Regions from separate parts of the Homo sapiens genome. Here region 2 is linked to region 1. A link means that fine-mapping ties the variant in region 1 to the expression of a gene that starts in the linked region. Tissue or cell type: whole blood. Region 1 holds a variant in brackets; the other region holds the start of a gene. All regions are shown on one strand. Distances are from middle to middle.

Evidence for each region. PIP is the estimated chance that this variant, and not a neighbour inherited with it, causes the effect.
Region 2: MCTP2 starts here. The variant in region 1 is fine-mapped to the expression of MCTP2 in whole blood (INTERVAL, PIP above 0.99). The same link has a PIP of 0.9 or more in blood mononuclear cells, esophagus mucosa, monocytes and thyroid.

Annotation. Positions count from the first base shown.
Region 1 is chr15:94,201,776-94,212,274 of GRCh38, forward strand. LOC105370984 (a long non-coding RNA gene) reads right to left here and starts at 5,115. Exons shown (of 2, transcript XR_932640.1): 1 at 5,028-5,115. The variant G/C (reference allele first, on the strand shown) is at 4,911.
Region 2 is chr15:94,226,099-94,236,597 of GRCh38, forward strand. It overlaps MCTP2 (multiple C2 and transmembrane domain containing 2), which reads left to right and starts at 5,463. Exons shown (of 23, transcript NM_001385001.1): 1 at 5,463-5,566. RefSeq lists an enhancer at 3,718-3,857 and a silencer at 5,393-5,522.

The DNA of each region.
Region 1 (10,499 bases):
GCGTGAGCCACCGCGCCCGGCCTCTTCTCTTGCTTCCTTCCTTTATTTTCTTCCTTTCTTCCTTCCTTTACCTTTGTTCAGTTTTATTCTTAAGTAAAATACAGAACAATAGCACAAAAATCAGGAGATGAGAAATAGAAAATTATTACAAAGCTTCTATACTTACATAAAGTGGTATAATATCACTTGAAGGTAGGCTGTGATAAGTTCAAGACACATTCTAGAAAAAGACTAAAATAAAACAAAGAGTATAGCTAATTAATCTAAAAGAAGACAAAATGGAATCATAAAAAAAATATACTCGGCTGAGAGCAGTGGCTCACGTCTGTAATCCCAGCACTTTGGGAGGCTGAGGTGGACGGATCACAAGGTCAGGAGTTCGAGACCAGCCTGGCCAATATGGTTTAACCCTGTCTCTACTAAAAATATAAAAATTAGCTGGGCATGGTGGCGGGCGCATGTAGTCCCAGCTACTCGGGACGCTGAGGCAGGAGAATTGCTTGAACCCAGGAGGCAGAGGTTGCAGTGCGCCAAGATCGCGCCACTGCACTCCAGCCTGGGTGACAGAGCGAGACCCCATCTCAAAAAATATATATATATACACACACACACACACATACACACACACTCAACTAATTCCAAAGAAGTTACAAAAAGAAGAAACGGAAACAAGGAACAGAGAGGACAAATAGGAAATAAGTAGAAAGATGATATATTGAAACCTAATAAAACCAATAATCACATTAAATATAAATTGTCAGAGACACCAATTAAAAATTAAAATGTAAAGTTGGATAAAAATGCAGGAGCTACCTACATGCTGCCTAAAAAAAAAACTTTATAAAGACACAAAAATATAAAAAGTATGGGCAAAAGACCCAGAATATTCAACATAATACTGAAGGAGAAGAACAAACTTAGAGGACTGACACTACCTGACTTCAAGACTTACTTTAAAGCTAGAGTAATTAAGACAGTGTGGTATTGTGAAAGAATAGAAAAATAGATCCATTGAACAGAAGAGAGAGGCCAGAAATAGACTCACATAAATATAACCCACTGATGATTGACAAAGGAACAATAATCCAATAAGCAAAGATCGTTTCTTTCAACAAGTGGCACCAGAACAACTGGACATCCAAATGCACAGAAACAAAAAAACAAACCAAAATGAACAGACAAAAACCCCCAAATTGAGATGCAGACCTAATACCCTTAACAAAAATTAACTCAAAGTAATCCACAGACCTAAATGCAGAATGCAAAATTATAAAACACCTCGATGACAACGTAGGAGAAAATGAAAATTACCTTTGGTTCAGAGAAAACTTTTTAGGTACGATGTCAAAGACACAATCCACGACAAAAAGTTGTTAAGCCGAATTTTATTAAAAGTAAAGATTTCGGCTCTGCAAAAGACATTGACAAGAGAATGAAAAGGTAAGCCACAGACTGGGGTAAAATATTTGCAAAAGACAAATCTGGTTAAAGGACAGTAATGTGAGAAAACATTTTAAATGGTCCACTTTCAAGGCATGATAAGTCTAAGTACTGGCAGCCAGCCTGCAAATGTAACAAATTGCATGGCTCATGAACCTAGAAGGTCACAGTAAGTGAATAGAATGTAGAGGAGGGGTCAGCCCATAAAAGGGAAGAAAGTTTCATTATTGGGAAATCAAAACTTAAGCGGGGACTGGGATGGCATATAACCTTATAAGGGAAATAATAAAACTTAGGTGACGTCTGGGAAGATTGTAACCCCATAGTACTTGACCAATAAGGAACTGGGGGAGGGACTTGCATGCTAGGAGATAAATTACCTGTTGTGACTGCCCAGGATGTGCCTGCCTATCAGACACCTGATCTTGCAAGACCGTTTGCTGTTCTTTGTGCCTCTAAGTCCATTCTTTGGGTTTGGATGGGTGAGTGTGTTTCTCACAAGTAATCCAAAATATGCAAAGAACTCTTAAAACTCAATAATACGACAACAAATACCTGATTAAAATATGGATCAAAGACCTTCACAGACAGCTCACCAAATAAGAAATACAGATGGTAAATAAGCATATGAAAGTATGTTCCATGTCATATGTCACCACAGAAATGAAAATCTGAAGAAGCTACATGCTGTATAATTCCAACTATATGACATTCTGGAAAAAGCAAAACCATGGAAACAGTAAAAGGATTGTAGTTTCCTGGAAATAGGGAAGAGGGAGAGATGAAGAGGTAGAGCATAGAGGATTTTTAGGGCACTGAAACTACTCTGTGTGATACTCTAACTGTATGCATTATACATTTGTCCAAATCCATAGAATGTATAGCTCCAAGACTAAATCCTAATGTAAACTATGGACTTTGAATGATAGTGATGCAACAATGTAGGCTCATCAGTTGTAACACATATGCCACTCTTGTGGAGGATGTAGATATTGTGGGGGTCTATGCATGTGTGGAGGCAAGGTCTACACAAAAATCCTCTGTACATTTTTCTCAGTTTTACTGTGAACCTAAAACTGCTCTTTAAAAATGAAGTCTTTTTAAAAAATAAATAAAAGGATGAAAGAGATATACCATGCTATCACTAAAAATAATTGTAATAGCTATATTAATATCCTACAAAGTAGATCTCAAACAAAGAATATTACTAGTGATAAATAAGTTAATTTCCTGATAATAAAAATGTCAACTAGTCAGGAGGACAAAAGAATCTGAAATGTGTATGTTCTGCATAAAATAACTTCAAAATTTATAAAACAAAATCTGCTAGAACTGTAAGGAAAAAGACAAAATCACAAAAATAGAGAGTTTTATATTTCTCCCAAAATAATTGGGAGAAATATAATATATTTACCAATAATATATCCCAATTATTTTTATTATTTATTATTTTTATTTTATTATATATATTTCCCAATAATATATCCCAACTATTTTGGGAGAAATATAAAATAGAATAAGTAGACTTTATGACTTTCCTAGGATATAGGAAAACTGAACAAATCTATAAACAAACTTGACTTTTTTGACATTATAGAATAACCCGTCTCCAAACACCAGAATATACATTTTTTGTACCATACACGGAACATTTACAAAGACAGACCATAATCTGAGAAAGAAAACAACCGTCAATAAATTTTAAATTATTCATATTGTGCAGTGTGTCTTTGGTAAATTGAGACTTAAATTAGAATTCAAAACCAGAATGATCTCTTGAAAACTCCTAAAATTTGGAATGTAAATAACAAACATCGCTACAATCAAGACATATTTATCATTCTGAAAAACTTTCATACGCCTTTTTGTAATCCCCTCCTTAATCGGAGTGATGGTTTCATTGGTACAGAAATATGTCAAACTTATTAAATTGGACACATATATACGTATATACATACATACACTTAATTATGTCAACTATAACTCAATTTTTTAAAAGTAAGAGTTACAACAAATACAAGTGGAGGATCCCTTTCTAATAACAACATATTTAAATGGGAGTCTGTCTCTTCAATGCACTTGAATCGATATTGATTTTAACGTTTACAATGGTCTGTAAAATAGTTCTTTGACAATTCCCTCTAAATTAGTCTAACTGAAACTGAATTCAACCAGTTAATAGGCTGGCTATTTTTTTTTATGTTTAGATTGAGTTAAATGGTTCTATCTGTGCAAATCTTCCCACTCTTCACTTAAAACCTCAAACACAATAAAAGCCCATCTATAGATACCACTGGGAAATGCGTCATTCAGTGAAGTAATTCCTACCACAAATCCCTGCAATTTGCATACACGCGGGCCCCTCTTTCCCCTGAGCTTCAGGCTGGGAGAAGCTGGTGTAAGAGACAGCCAGCCTGTTGCCAAACTCACTTTATTTGTTCGAGCATATTCCTTTAACACGGGACAGTCGGCTTCCTGTAGTATTTTTCCAAAAAGAAAGTAGGCGTGGCCCATTTTAAGCCTCCAAGAAAATAAACAAATAAATAATTGTTTTCATTTTCCTTTGTTCTTGATCCCTTCCCAAACTAATCTAAAAATGAGTTTTGTTTTATACGAAAAGATCGATGCATGCAGCGGTTTTTTTCCCCTTAAAATCTGGCATCTCTATAAAGAAAAACTGCCTATGTACAGACTGTGTAAGCGAAGAGAAAAAAAGAACTTAAAAAGAAAGAGATTGCCATTTTTAGTCCATTATACATGTATTTTAGAAAACACTTTCACCACCTGAATCCACGGAAGAGAGTCTGAGGTGTGACCCTTTTATTCTCAAAAAGAGAGCAGCAGAGGCCGGGCGCGGTGGCTCACGCCTGTAATCCCAGCACTTTGGGAGGCCAAGGCGGGCGGATCACAAGGTCAGGAGATCGAGACCATCCTGGCTAACACGGTGAAACCCCATCTCTACTAAAAATACAAAAAACTAGCCAGGCGTGGTGGCGGGCGCCTGTAGTCCCAGCTACTCGGGAGGCTGAGGCAGGAGAATGGCGTGAACTGGGGAGGCGGAGCTTGCAGTGAGCCGAGATCCCGCCACTGCACTCCAGCCTGGGTGACAGAGCGAGACTCCGTCTCAAAAAAAAAAAAAAAAAAGAAAGAAAAGAAGAGAAAAAGAAAAAGAGGGCAACAGAGACTTCTGCTAAACCTACCAATGACCACTAGAAGAGTCTGAAAGGCTGGGAGAGACTGAATCTCTCTGAGACCGAGCAGGGTCTCCTTAATTTCAAAACTTATACAGGCACTTTACATGATTGCAAAGGGGCCATGTATTATTTGCCCAGGAAATGCTCTTATGCTTTACAGGGTTTGCTACAGGAGGGGCGAGTAATGACTTAGCAGAACTTCTTCGTGAATTACTGGAAGCCAGCATGTTCCTCCTGCTCTGGCTTGTGCAGGAATAAACCACACACCACTTAACA[G/C]GGTTGGTGGTTTTTCTTGTCCTTTCCTGTTTGGAGAAGGACGTTGACAGTAGAGAAAGCCAAGGCACTGACTCATGAACAGTAGAGACTGTCAGCAGAGCAGAGAACGATACCCACCTTCTAAACTTCTCATCTCCATACTTCTGATGAAACAACCAAACAAGAGCCAAAATTACTCTTAAAAATTCTGAGAAATTATAGTGTGATGAAGGTTAACATGACCACTGATGTCATGTGGATATCACATAGCGCCTCCCCACAATATGACGCGACAATGAAGGCACTTCACCTATGTGATACTCTTCCAAAAACGTAGACTCCAGTCTAATCATAAGAAAAATGACAGACCAGCCCACATGGGGAGGTGTTCTACAGTATTCCTGGGCGGTACTTCTCAATACTGTTAAGGTAATGAACAATAAGGAAGACAGATAAACTGTCGCAGAGCAGAGGAGCCTGGGGAGCCATGCAAACTAAATGCAATGTGGTACCCTGGCCTGAATCCTGGAGCACAAAATAGATGCTAATGGAAACACTGATGAAATCCAATACAGCCCAGTGTTTGGCTAATAGTAAACACCAGCATCCGCTTCTTAGTTGTGACAAATGTACCATCGTATTTTACAATGGTAAAATATATCTAGGTTCCATGGGGGAAACTAGATGAAGGATATGCAGGAACTCTGTGTACTATCTTTGCAACTTTTCTGTCAATCTAAAATTAGGCTGAAATTTAAAAACATGATTTTAAAAGCTGAGAAATAATTCTGAGAAAGAATGTTTGTACCTTATTGCAACTTAAATGTCTAAAATGAAAATTTGATGCTCACAAGAATGATGTCTGAATAAATGAAATAAAGTTATCTAAGCAGATGATGTTCTAAATTATTGCCTCTGTGTTCTGAATTCCATTGTGTTCTTGCCCCTAGCCCCCAGCCCAAAGTCAAAAAGTTACTTGAAACTAACAAGTAACTATAGTTTAAAAAATTTTTTAAGTCTTTAGAAAAACATAAATGTGTACGTCTCTGCGACACGAAAGGCCATACAAGTGAAGAGATCACATTGGATATTTTTTTGTGCCCCTCTTGTGCAAACAGACATAGACATGGCACATGGCATATAATTATTATTGACACATCTGTCCCTGCCCTACATCTTGATTTCTTTGTGAGGAAGAAAAGTAGTCTTTGGAATCATTAGATATAAATACAAATAAATCCCAGCTCACCAAGTAATTATTAATTAATGTATTTTGTTTTGTTTTGTTTTGTTTTTTTGAGACAGAGTCTCGCTCTGTCGCCTAGGCTGGAGTGCAATGGTGTGATCTTGGCTCACTGCAACCTCCGCCTCCTGGGTTCTAGCCATTCTCCTGCCTCAGCCTCCTGAGTAGCTAGGACTACAGGCATGCACCACCATGCCTGGCTTTTTGTATTTTCAGTAGAGATGGGGATTCACCATGTTGGTCAGGCTGGTCTCAAACTCCTGACCTCAGTTGATCTGTCCGCCTTGGCCTCCGAAAGTGCTGGGATTAAAGGTGTGAGCCACTGCAACCGGCCTCCCCAAGTAATTATTAAGGTAACTCTAAACATTGCAACACATTTTTTTTAATTATTATACTTTAAGTTTTAGGGTACATGTGCACAGCGTGCAGGTTTGTTACATACGTATACATTGCCATGTTCGTGTGCTGCACCCATCAACTCGTCATTTAGTATTAGGTATCTCTCCCAATGCTATCCCTCCCTCCTCCCCTCACGCCACAACAGTCCCCGGTGTTTGATGTTCCCCATTCTGTGTCCACGTGTTCTCATTGTTCAATTCCCACCTATGAGTGAGAACATGCGGTGTTTGGTTTTTTTGTCCTTGTGATAGTTTGCTGAGAATGATGGTTTCCAGCTTCATCCATGTTCCTACAAAGGACATGAACTCATCATTTTATATGGCTGCATAGTATTCCATGGTGTATATGTGCCACATATTCTTAATCCAGTCTATCATTGTTGGACATTTGGCTTGGTTCCAAGTCTTTGCTATTGTGAATAGTGCCGCAATAAACATACGTGTGCATGTGTCTTTATAGCAGTATGACTTACAATCCTTTGGGTATATACCCAGTAATGGGATGGCTGGGTCAAATGGTATTTCTAGTTCTAGATCCCTGAGGAATCACCACACCGAATTCCACAATGGTTGAAGTAGTTTATAGTCCCACCAACAGTGTAAAAGTGTTCCTATTTCTCCACATCCTCTCCAGCACCTGTTGTTTCCTGACTTTTTAATGATTGCCATTCTAACTGGTGTGAGATGGTATCTCATTGTGGTTTTGATTTGCATTTCTCTGATGACCAGTGATGATGAGCATTTTTTCATGTGTTTTTTGGCTGCATAAATGTCTTCTTTTGAGAAGTGTCTGTTCATATCCTTCGCCCACTTGTTGATGGGATTGTTTGTTTTTTTCTTATAAATTTGTTTGAGTTCAAAGTAGATTCTGGATATTAGCCCTTTGTCAGATGAGTAGGTTGCAAAAATTTTCTTCCATTCTGTAGGTTGCCTGTTCACTCTGATGGTGGTTTCTTTTGCTATGTAGAAGCTCTTTAGTTGGATTAGATCCCATTTATCAATTTTGTCTTTTGTTGCCATTGCTTTTGGTGTTTTAGACATGAAGTCCTTGCCCATGCCTATGTCCTGAATGGTATTGCCTAGGTTTTCTTCTAGGGTTTTTATGGTTTTAGGTCTAACATGTAAGTCTTTAATCCATCTTGAATTAATTTTTGTATAAGGTGCAAGGAAGGGGTCCAGTTTCAGCTTTCCCCATATGGCTAGCCAGTTTTCCCAGCACCGTTTATTAAATAGGGAATCCTTTCCCCATTTCTTGTTTTTGTCAGGTTTGTCAAAGATGAGATAGTTGTAGATATGTGGCATTATTCCTGAGGGCTCCGTTCTGTTCCATTGGTCTATATCTCTGTTTTGGTACCAGTACCATGCTGTTTTGGTTACTGCAGCCTTGTAGTATAGTTTGAAGTCAAGTAGTGTGATGCCTCCAGCTTTGTTCTTTTGGCTTAGGATTGACTTGGCAATGCAGGCTCTTTTTTGGTTCCATATGAACTTTAAAGTAGTTTTTTCCAATTCTGTGAAGAAAGTCATTGGTAGCTTGATGGGGATGGCAATGAATCTATAAATTACCTTGGGCAGTATGGCCATTTTCATGATATTGATTCTTCCTACCCATGAGCATGGAATGTTCTTCCATTTGTTTGTATCCTCTTTTATTTCATTGAGCAGTGGTTTGTAGTTCTCCTTGAAGAGGTCCTTCACATCCCTTGTAAGTTGGATTCCTAGGTATTTTATTCTCTTTGAAGCAATTGTGAATGGGCGTTCATTCATGATTTGGCTCTCTGTCTGTTATTGGTGTATAAGAATGCTTGTGATTTTTGCACATTGATTTTGTATCCTGAGACTTTGCTGAAGTTGTTTATCAGCTTAAGGAGACTTTGGGCTGAGATGATGGGGTTTTCTAGATATACAATCACGTCATCTGCAAACAGGGACAATTTGACTTCCTCTTTTCCTAATTGAATGCCCTTTATTTCCTTCTCCTGCCTGATTGCCCTGGCCAGAACTTCCAACACTATGTTGAATAGGAGTGGTGAGAGAGGGCATCCCTGTCTTGTGCCAGTTTTCAAAGGGAATGCTTCCAGTTTTTGTCCATTCCATATGATATTGGCTGTGGGTTTGTCATAGATAGCTCTTATTATTTTGAGATACGTCCCATCAGTACCTAATTTATTAAGAGTTTTTAGCATGAAGTGTTGTTGAATTTTGTCAAAGGTCTTTTCTGCATCTATTGAGATAATCATGTGGTTTTCGTCTTTGGTTCTGTTTATATGCCGGATTATGTTTATTGATTTTCGTATGTTGAACCAGCCTTGCATCCCAGGGATGAAGCCCACTTGATCATGGTGGATAAGCCTTTTGATGTGTTGCTGTATTCAGTTTGCCAGTATTTTATTGAGGATTTTTGCATCAATGTTCATCAAAGATATTGGTCTAAAATTCTCTTTTTTGGTTGTGTCTCTGCTAGGCTTTGGTATCAGGATGATGCTGGCCTCATAAAATGAGTTAGGGAGGATTCCCTCTTTTCCTATTGATTGGAATAGTTTCAGAAGGAATGGTACCAGCTCCTCCTTGTACCTCTGGTAGAATTCGGCTGTGAATCCATCTGGTCCTGGACTTTTTTTGGTTGGTAAGCTATTAATTATTGCCCCAATTTCAGAGCCTGTTATTGGTCTATTCAGAGATTCAACTTCTTCCTGGTTTAGTCTTGGGAGAGTGTGTGTTGAGGAATTTATCCATTTCTTCTAGATTTTCTAGTTTATTTGCATAGAGGTGTTTATAGTAATCTCTGATGGTAGTTTGTATTTCTGTGGGATCGGTGGCGATATCCCCTTTATCATTTTTTATTGCGTCTATTTGATTCTTCTCTCTTTTCTTCTTTATTAGTCTTGCTAGCGCTCTATCAATTTTGTTGATCTTTTCAAAAAACCAGCTCCTGGATTCATTGATTTTTTGAAGGGGTTTTGTGTCTCTATTTCCTTCAGTTCTGCCTGATTTTAGTTATTTCTTGCCTTCTGCTAGCTTTTGAATGTGTTTGCTCTTGCTTCTCTAGTTCTTTTAATTGTGATGTTAGGGTGTCAATTTTAGATCTTTCCTGCTTTCTCTTGTGGGCATTTAGTGCTATAAATTTCCCTCTACACCCTGCTTTGAATGTGTCCCAGAGATTCTGGTATGTTGTGTCTTTGTTCTCGTTGGTTTCAAAGAACATCTTTATTTCTGCCTTCATTTTGTTATGTACCCAGTAGTCATTCAGGAGCAGGTTGTTCAGTTTCCATGTAGTTGAGCGGTTTTGAGTGAGTTTCTTAATCCTGAGTTCTAGTTTGATTGCACTGTGGTCTGACAGACAGTGCAACACATTTCTTAAAGCAGTATTTTTAATCATATAATTAGGTACTAGTCATATATCTTCCAGGGTGTCTCAGAGGATCTCATAGGGTTTAATAGGCATCCGGTACATGTTAATATCTTTTTGTTCTTAAGGTATTAAAAAATTTCATTTCCAGGGAAAACTATTGTCTATAGCACACTGGTCCAGATTATCTGACTCTAGCCTTTCATTATCTTTGAGCTATTTTATAACTTGGTAAATTTTAGATATGTAATAGCAAGGCAAAATGATTCTAGTCTATGGATATACCGATTAGTTATGTGCAGTGGAGAGACAGATCTCCCTCCATTGGAAAAGGCAGTTTTGCATCCATTTGCAAGTTCATTTCAAAATCCAGTTTCTCCATATGCATTTGTGTTTCTTTGACTTCCTCCCTTTGCATTGGTTGTAACATTTCAATGGTCCTCTCATTAATAACAAATTAAAATCTCTAACACATGTCCATTTTACATCTCTATGATAGCCATATTTTACTTCTTGAACATAAATATTATTTTATTCATTTTTGTACTTTCTATTCCTATCCTGATAATAAGAGGTGTCGTAAATGTTAATCAAATAGAATTGATCCAGAATTTCAAATATGT
Region 2 (10,499 bases), 24 kb after region 1:
AAAATATATTTTTGTGCTGACTGAATTAGGTTTTCCTTATTCTTCTCCATTTTAAAGTCAGCTGAATAGAAGTTCAACCTAATCAAAGTTTACTTTTTAAAAGAACAAGCCCTTTAGAGAATGTGTAATTTTTCATTATAGTTGGGTATTTCTCAGTAGGAAAAATGAAAAACTTTAGCACATACTGGAAATTAAGAAATTAAGAAATTAACTTAGTCTTAAGGTCAGATTACTTACTGTCTTATTTTCTACTTTGGATTTTTTCAGGAAGTGGCAACAATTGTCACTACAAAGACGTGCCTAAAAAAAAATCAGTAAAGCAGGCAGGTGCCTACCAGGTTGGTTTGCAAATGTCCTTATGCACTTAATAAGACCTTGTCTATTTCCTGACTACTTTTCAATCCATTAATTAGTGATGTTGTACTTTCTTTGTAGGTTATCATTAGAGGCAGTAATGGGAGACTGGATGAATGAAAACTTATGCAAATTATACATCCCAACCAGTCACAAAGACAGACTGGAGACGTCAAGTCCAAAATTTGTTAATGTCCTCAGCCATAGACATAGTTATTATTTCTCCACATTTGTCTATATTTTGATTTTCTGATTAAGATTATGGAAATACTGCTAGATGGCTGGCTTCATTTATTGAACTGATCTTTGTCTGCCAGTTGAGTCTGTACTTATCTCAATTGTGTAAGCCAGGTTTCACCCATGAAGACTCCCTTTTTTCATCACTTGGGACTGACTGGGGTCCCGGTTTCTGCTGATTCTCTGGTGTATTTTCTACCTGGTTTTTTACACCACTTGCTGGGCTCTGCAGGTGCTACTATCAAGGCCTCTTCACTCTGACACTCTATTGTGTTTATCTGTTTACACATCTAGCGAAAATGTGAGCCATTGGAGGGCAGAAGCTATCATATTTGTGTTATATCCACAGAGTTTATCACAGAGCTTAATATATGGATCAGGGGATTCAAACTGGTTGCCAGGCTTTCGGCCACCTGTATTTTTTAGCCAGCACAGGGTTAACAATAAGTAAATTTGAATGTCTTTAGGTGGGCCTACTCTCTGCTATTTGCCACAGTCTCTATCTTCTTATATGTGACCACAGTCAATCTCTATTTCACCAGTCTCACCCATGTAGGCACCCTAGTTTGTGGTCCTGGTTGTAGATGATGAATACATGCTAATTATGTGAATGAATACATCAATGAATGTACTTCTTATTTTGCATGGAGAATTGATTGTTATCTAAATATTCTTGTCCTGAAAATTCCCCTAGTTTCATCTCTCATTTTGGAAAATACAGGTAGAAAAACAGATAACTGTAATGTGCAATGCACAAATAAGCATTTCTGAATACTTGCCAGAGGTGAGCCACTCTGTGCATTCTAGTGGCTCAATTAGAGAGGAAAACAAATTCAACTGTGTTATTTGCAGAACCCATAAGATGCAAACAAACCATTTGTTGTGGAAAAGCTCAAGATTTTTGTATCTGAGATGAGTGATAACTTCTACCTTGGATCATCTTAAAACAGGCAGTGTAATTTTAAAAAACAATGACCCCGACCAACATGCCAAATGTATGTTCAACAACGTATTTCCCAAGGTAGATTCTTAAGATACCCCCCACTATTGCCAATGACAACACACTAGAGAACAATTCAATAAATGTGATTTGGGGCCACAGAAATTCTCTACAGTATGAACCTCTCCCCTGGCCTAGGGGAAGTTTTAAGCAATTAACTGAATGAAATTCAGATCGTCAGACAAAAATGTTGGTACTGAGATAGTAATCTTGGGCAAAGTTAACCTTCATCTGAAGAAGTAAATTTGGTTCTTCTTTACCCATCTAATGAATGGCAGACTCAGTCTCTTAAGAGTTAACTCCAAGCCTCTAATAATTTTAACTTTTCAGAAGCAACCACTACCAGATGTTCATTTTGGCCATAAAAGTTCCCACCCAATAAAGGTACAACATCCATAAAAGTCGATCTTTGAACAACTTACTACCTGTGAACATTTCCAGCTAATCAGCTTGTGTTAAATACATGTTTAGGTATTTGAAAGAAAAGAACTTGATACATAGAATCATCATTAGGACAATTCAATGCTGATGTTGATTTCCAAAGAGATTTTATAAGAAGTCTTTCTGAATAATTAGAGAATAGGACTCATTTTCTGTTAGGTCCATTCTTTTGTTCAAGAAAGTGAAGCCTACAGGATAAACTCGTAACTAGTAAGTGGCAGAGCTAGGTCTGGAGTGAGTCACTAAATTTGGTCTCTCCACACCTGCCTATAAAAAGGGGATAACATGATAATTATACCAAAGGAAAAAAAATCCTGAGTACATATAATAACAAAGACTATTTGCACTAACAATAAAAGAAGTACCATTTCTCAACGCCACGTAACAGAGTGCATATTCTTCCTTAAAGCACACACTAAAATAAACATTTGTTACTTGGACAATAGACTGAAGTTTGCTTTAACCATTATATTCGTTTTAACCCCTGGTAGATCTAAATTGACATGTTTATGTCTCAGTCATTTTTCTACTTCTGCTCTTATCGGCCCAGAAATGATGAGAAGCACCAACGAAGGAAAATGTGAGGGAAGCTAGGTGCCAAGCCCTTACATTACTGCTAGCAGATCTCAGACAGCTTTCTCTTTGACATAAAGGGACTTGTCCCAGCAAGATTAGCTCTGTGTCCTCCAAATGGAGCCAGACTGTGTTGACTGCATGGCCAACTCTGATAGGATGACCCAAGGAGGCTCCCACTGAGCAGAGAAGATATGGAACTCTAGATCCTATGCATTTACAGACAGGGTCTTGTCTTCTTTAGAGAAGACTGCTTTAACCCTCATTGTCAAAGACTCTGGGTGGCTACAGCAATTTTCATTTGTTTCATTTGAAATACTCTGGCTCATTCAAAAAGGCACAGGGACGTGGCTAGATAACTGCACTAATTGTTATCTAGCCTTTGTATGCACTTAACCGTGCTTCTGCATGTATGACAGGCAGTATAGCCATGATAGCCAAGGAGTACACTGGGCCTTCAGAAGACACATCTTCCATTTACAATTTAAAAGAAGAGGTGCCAATATTAGATTGTCATGCAACCAAACATACATTGTCTAAGATATAAAAGCAATTGTATCTGAAAGTGGGAAATCTCCACCTCAATTATCACATTGACAATAGGGGCATTTCTTCAGAGGCCAAATATCTGGTTGCTCAGAAGAGAGAGAAAGCTGCCTATGATACGTGCAGGAGATTTTATTTTTTTTTAAGTATAATTATGACATCACTGACCAGTGCCTATAATGTAAGACCTGGTTCAAAATCTGTTTAGAGAAATTCAATATAACAAAAGTGTGTTAAAAATTTATCAGCTACATGTATGAGTCCAGTTGCCATTCTAAATGCTGGTGTGGTTATGTAGTAAAGTTAAATTGGTATAAGCAACAATATTATTCCCTGGAAGGGACATTTCCTGGGTGGAACATAGAAAAGGAGACAGGTAATATGTTTGAACAATTAAAAACAAAAAACCCAGGAAGCTGGGCAGATGAGTGTATTGTGGTGGGAAGGGCAAGTTGTGACCTTAGATTTCTGTATCTTTAGTTGTTTCACTTTCTATACCATTTAATGATTGAAAAATGCGGTTGGACTGCCGGAACCACAGAACAGGAACTCCACTGGGGCAGGAGTTAAAGGCAAAAAAGCTTTTGTGTGGGTTCACTTACTATTTTAATTCATTTGTATTCTTAGTCAGCTTTAAAGGTATGATTGCTTCGTCTGCCTACTGCTCTTTCTCTTCTTCCTTTCATGCTGTTTTACCCTTACCTCTCTCTGTTCTCTGCTAGGGGATGTAACCTTCGGCACGGTGGGAAAAGCCAATTTTGCCATAGGCCTCAGCTTGCTCTGACTCGGCTACTAACTTGACTCATAGCTTCAGGCAGGTTATTTCATGGTTCTGATGCTCATTTTCCTCATCTTGAATCAGAGATTTTATTAACTGTCTCCTGGTTTGTGAAAATTCAATATGATCACGTGTTACATGCCAATCACAGAAACTGGTGCGAAGTTGTGTTCCTCAGTGGTAGCTATTGTTGTAAGTCGGAATTGCATGACAGTGGCAGCTGTTTTCTATCACGTCCTCATGTTTTCTAAATTTTTATGCCCCTTCCTCCCATTTCCTACCTTAGTATTGTTAATAGCTAACTTTTATTAAGTGGTTACCATGGCCCAGGACACTGTAATGAGGATTTTATGTGAATTACCTAATTAATTTCTCAGAAAGTATGAGATAGCTATTATTTTAAGCTATTTAAGCTATTTTAAGCTATTTAAACAACCAGTTTGTTGAAGTTAAAATTTAGAGAGGTTAAGTGAACTCGTCCATTTACACAATTAGTTGCCCAGGCAGAATTTGATTTGAGGTCTGACTCCAAAGCCGGAGCTCTTAATCACCAGTGACACCAACTAAACGCTTCATTTCAGAGCTCGCCTATTCCCAGAGGTCCCATTCCCGTTTTAAGGTTATTTTCTGTAACTCTCTTGTATCTAATTTAAAAATGCTATTTCCCAGAGATGAGTCCCTGATCTCCCAGAAGGCATGGATCATACATTTCTTTTCCTAATCCACCCAAATTCCTAGAGCGCACAGACTTAGGCTCGTTCATAGACGGGAAAAGAAACTGACCAGGCAGTGAAACCGAGCAAACAAAGTGCAATAAGACAATTACAGCAGGAAAGCGGCGTAAAAAAAAGTAGAAAAAGAAAGTAAGGGAAAGGGGAAATAAATAGCAAATATTCGCTGAGTGCCAACAATCGCACGGGAGGGTCTTTAGGGTTCTCTGCCGAGTACTCGGGACGGCTTGCTGAGCAGTACGCCGGCCTTATCTCATAGATGAGGCACCAAGGCTCAGGAAACAGTTCTGTGGATCTGGGCGGGCATCTTCCACCCACAGTCGCGCACACGTGGCATAGGTTAATAGGCTGTCTGGCTCGGGTACCTCTTCCCAGGGTCAGGGCGTTACAAAGGGAGGCTGCTGTCTTCCCATGAATCTATTAGGGACCTACAGGAGCGAAGAGAACCCTTCTGAGTATCAGCGAAGACAGCTTATTAAGACTTTACGAGTTTGCAAGCCATCCTCGTCCTATTTCCTCACTTCGGACTTTTTGGACACACCTTCCTTTTCCTGTGAGCCAACCCAAACGAATGAGTTACAAGTAATCGCCTTCTCTACGCCCAGCCAGTGCCCAGCACCAAGCATAGCGCCTCCTTGCAACACCCGGCCGAGCTCCCGGCGGCAGCGCGGGCGCTTGGGTCGGAGGCTGCTCAAAGGTGACGCGCGGCCGCCTCCTCCCCTTTAGGCGGGGCTCGCAAGGGCGGTGGGGGGGCCCGAGGAAGTCCGGGGGCCCTCGGTGATGCCCCCGCCCCCGCCGCGTCAGGGTTGCTCCCTGCGCTTCCGAGTGGCGACTGCAGCGGGTCCGGTGCAGGTGAGGGGCGCGCGCCTGCCCAGCTTTGCAGCCCCCGAACGCGGCCTCGCACAGGTGAGGGCGGTGCCGGGTTCACCTGGCAGCGCGCGTGGGCCGGGCAGCACGGTCGCCGCCTGGGGGTGGGCGTCTTCTCTCAACCGAAGCTGGGAGTTGGGGAGCTGGAGGGTCCAGGATGAGAATTCAGTGGCGCTACTACCCCGGAGCTGCTTGTGGTTCAGAGATCAGAAAGGTGTCCTGAGGACTGGAGGCAGAAATCCAGGCGTGGCGTACTGGAAGGCGCACTAGGGGAGGGCAGCCTGGCCCAGAATTTCTTTGCATTTTAAAGGCCACACATTCAGTCTCCCCGGGGCGCTACGGAGGTAGTCACCGCCACATCCAGGACTCCTTCCACAGAGGTCAGTTCCTCAGCTGGGTGGGCTTTAATACGCTCTCTTCGTAGAGACCCGGAGGTTCAACTTTAATTCTTTGCGCTGACATTTGCTCAACGACACCGGAGCAGAAATCCTTGGGATAATTGCGTAGGTAACAAACAGTGTCTCAATCCCACTGAAGATAAGTAAGTTAAAAATAAAGACAGTGATGTTGGTGGTGAACTTGAGTGGCGATTAGTTTCCGCAATTAGTTCCCTCCTGCACTGTCCATTTGTTAAGCAAATGTGCTGACGGCTTTTTTTAAATGATTGGGTTGCCATAAAAGAGGTTTTCTCTAGTCTGAATGAACTTCTGTGCGATGCTGACTGAGGGTTTCAGCCTCCTCTAGATGCTTACAAGAGCTTGGTCTGGAAGGTACAAGGGTGCGAACCCTTAAGGTACCAAGCAGCTTCTCAGTGAACCGTGAGACGTTAGAACACTTGCTTCAGGACGCACAGAATTCAGACACCACTTATTGAAGGATTTGTATGGATTATAATTTACATTAGCATTCATTTTTTGCTTGAGTCAGTAGCATTTCAATTCAACAAATATTTATTGTACACCTGTTAACGGGCAGACCTCTGAGAGCCGGGCTGGTGTGCTGTTGGGTAGCACAGGTGTTGATATTAATACAAAGGGGAATCTTAAGGCACTTATTCCTCACAGGTGGGTGTTTAGAACGAGACCAATGGTGCTGCGCTTTGCCTCAGCAGCACCTGTGTAATCGCTGGTTATAAGTATTTAAATGCAGGGAGAATGTAAATCTTTGAAGAGTCTCTGTCATTAGCCTGATCAGTCATTCCAAAGCAATAAAAATTGTCAAAACCATGCTTAAAATAAGATTATTAAGAATTAGCTCTGTGCCAAGCACCATGCTAGGCACTTTGTCTTGTCTATGAAATCTACAAAGTAGATACTATTCCCCTGTGCAGATAAGGAACTGAGGCAGAGAGGAGTCCAGTAATTTGTACAAGGTCAGTGGTGAATTTAGAAATTGCATGTGGCTATTTCTGAGTGCAGAACTCGTACTTTTTCACTATTCCATGCTGTCTCTAAGATGGAGAGTGTAAATCCGGCAGATTTAATATAAGAATTCAAATTTATATTCATAGATCCTATCTCCTGGGGATTAATGGAGTTAAAGTAGTCCTCAGGAATGAAGTGAGCACTGTTTTCATTGCACTTGTGTGGTCAAGCTGTGACCTATCTGTGACTAGTAGATGTAGCTTTAAAAGATAAAATTTATTATGTGTCTTAACATATTTTGAAAGGCCTTTCAAAATATGTTAAAAGATAAAATTTATTATGTCTCTTAACATATTTTGAAAGGCCTGATATATCCAAACAGGGCCAATTAATAAAATTGCATATATATTCTCTCTGTGTTATACATGGAAGGAACAGCTAATTTCCTATTATTGGTGTGCTTTACTATGGTCTCCTCCTGCAGAGGTGAGTTTCTCAGCTGAGTGGGCTTTGAAATCAATTTCAGCTTGATTTCTTACAGCTGCAAGATGATTAGCGGTCTCTTGTCACCTGGAAAGGACTTTGTGTTTGTGTAAACCTGTGCTCACACACGAATATATATTTTTCCTTAAACCTATTTCCAGAAGTACTACTTCTGGAAATTGTAGAGTACTGCAATGTGATGATCTGGCGAGGAATCAAGTTCCTTATTTGACTTTTGCATAAAGGATTTATAACAACTGACAATTTCTTTAAGTGCATGTAAACCAGGAAAGTAATTTTCAAATTAAAATTATTATACTGTGGAGAATGGAAAGTGAGTGAAAAATAGTACTCTGAATTCAAATAATATTTCTTGTTGTGGAAAACACTTGCTTTCTTAAAACTTTTCTTGTAATTGTTGGTAATTACACACAGAAATGGAAGGGGTTTTATATTTAAATTACCTTGAATTGTTGCCAGTTAACTGTTGAGAAAAGGCTTTGCCCGTGAAGCGAGGATCAGGTAGAATATTTTGCCTGCGTCAATCTTGGCACAGATTTTTTTTTTCCCTCTATCTTCACGTGGAGGTGAAACAGCCAGACACCTTAAACTCCTCTTTAGGAGCTGAGCTGTTAAGTCCTTCCTAGAAGGTGTTTATAAAAGTGTGCCTGACCTGGTAAGGTGTTCTCATGGGGAACCAGGGTGGGTGATGAAGGAGGAGAGTATGTAGGGGATATGAAGCAGGGGCAGTTCCAAGTTTTGTGAGGCCTAAAAGGTAAACAATTTGGAGACTCTCTTTAAGAAAATTAATACAAAATTAGGTGTGAAAGTGAATATGTATTTAAAATGAGAAAAAGAGATGATAATTTACTGGAGATTTCTGCCTGTTTCTGTGGAGATCTTGGGCAATTTACCAGAAATGCTTACAAAAACAGGAGTGCTGATTGCAATCCGGCTTCCCCTCTCCCTGAGAACACTCAGCATTTCCCAGCAGCTTGTCACACCCACGGGGGGCCCTGCTAGTGAGAAGCCCAAAGTTGAAGCTCTGTTACCCTCAAAGAGTGAGAGGGAAAGTTGTGGTTAAAGGCAAAGGACTCATGCTCCACTGAGCAGAGAAGAGACTGCTGGATGGGACAGCAGAGACACTCTGGACACTCATGTCCAACGAACAATTCTGAGAGCTGGTCTTCAAGACTTTCCAGGTTGGTTTGTTTCTCAGGGATGCCTTTGGCCATTGGCTTTTCCAACTATCAGTCACCATTTATTGGGAGTTTTCTAATGTCCCAAGTCCTGAGTAAGGCGAAGTCCTGATTGTCAAGAACTCCCAGTCTCATGGAGCTGATTTCATTGATCACAGTGCTTTGTTATAGGCTTGCATAGAGATGCCACAGGGGCCTTGGAGGGTTCCTGATGGCTTGAGCTGAGTTTGGAGTTACTCTGATGGAGTCCAGGAGGGTCATTCTAAGTGAGCAGAGAGCCATTAAAAGCCCTGGTGGTGGTCGGGCACAGTGGCTCACGCCTGTAATCCCAGCACTTTGGGAGGCCGAGTTGGGTGGATCACCTGAGGTCAGGAGTTCGAGACCGGCCTGGCCAATATGGCGAAATCCCATCTCTACTAAAAGTACAAAAATTAGTCCGGTGTGGTGGCAGTGCCTATAATCCTAGGTAATTGGGAGGCTGAGGTAGGAGAATGGCTTGAACTTGGGAGGCGGAGGTTGCAGCAGTGAGCCAAGATTGCACCATTGCATTCCAGCCTGGGAGACAAGAGCGAAACTCCGTCTCAAAAAAAAAAAAAAATCCCTGGTGGTTTAGACTCATTCATTCTCCTCCACTGATGTTCTTCGAGTCCGGCAGCACCTACGTACCTGAGATTAACTTGTTAGAAATGCACGTTCTCAGGCACCCCGCATTAGGAGCTCTGCGTCTAGAGCACAGTAATCTGTGCTTTAAGAAGCCCTCCGGATGATTCTGGTGCATGCTAAAATCTGAAAACCACTGGTCTTAATATTTAAGAGAACAGATAGGGCATGGAATCCCTTATGGAGATCACTGGGAGGGAACTGAAATTAATAATAATAGTAATATATTAGTGTTGTAATATGATAATTTGTATTACTATCACTAACATTTATTGAGCTCTCAGGTTGTGCCAGGCATTTTGCTAAGAAATATTAACTCTTAATCTTCGGTACAAACCCTGGGTAACGCAGGGCTATGATCAACTGGATTTAAATGTGAGAAAACTGAAAGAGAAATAGGAAATTGTCCGTAGTCACACAGCTGGAAAGTGGTTCAGCCGGGATTCAAGCACAGGCTGTCTGGTTTTAGAACCTTCCTCTTTTATCTTGCCTGGGAGAGTTTTCATCGATGCCACTGTTATGTGTTGGCATTGGCCAAGAGGCAGGCCTGGGATTGCTTGGGATGTGCCTGTTTAACAATCGTAGTCATTTGCTGACTACTGTGGTTAAGAAATTTTTCATTAGAGACAAATTTCCAAACTAGGAAGGAAGAACTTCATTGTCATTTACTCCTGATGCAGACTTTTAAAATTTCATGAGTGAATAGACATGATTCCATATAAATGATTACATCACATGCAAATACCATTTCCCATAGCGTCATGATTAAGGGCTCCTATGGATTACCCAGCGGGGAGTGATGTTGGTGATTATGGAAGGTGGCCTTGTTTCCTTGTTTAGGAATGCTGGGATTTGATCTGATTATTAGAGGCCTCTCTTCTAGAGGCCAAGCACCTCCCCAGGCCACAGAGGATTTGAAGGTGATGCTGTGTTTGTTCATTACATTTTGGAAGATATTCAGAAGAGCTGTGCCTTGTCCTATTACATTTTTTTTTTCTGGTAAAAAAATAAAAAGTTGCCTATGATTCAATCCTTTCTTTTTTTTCTTTTTTTTTTTTTTTTTTTTTTTTTTTTACGAAATAGCCCCATGGTGTCAAGCAGCGTGAGTAAGAATGTACAGATAGTGACATGGATATGTGTGCGAGTGCGTAGAGTGATGGTTTGCTCTCGGGTATAAACCTAAGGTTGCTGTGCCTTTACTTCCCCTCTAGAAAAAAATGTTTACACAAACATTAATTTGAGTTTATGGTAGGCAGCAGAATCTAA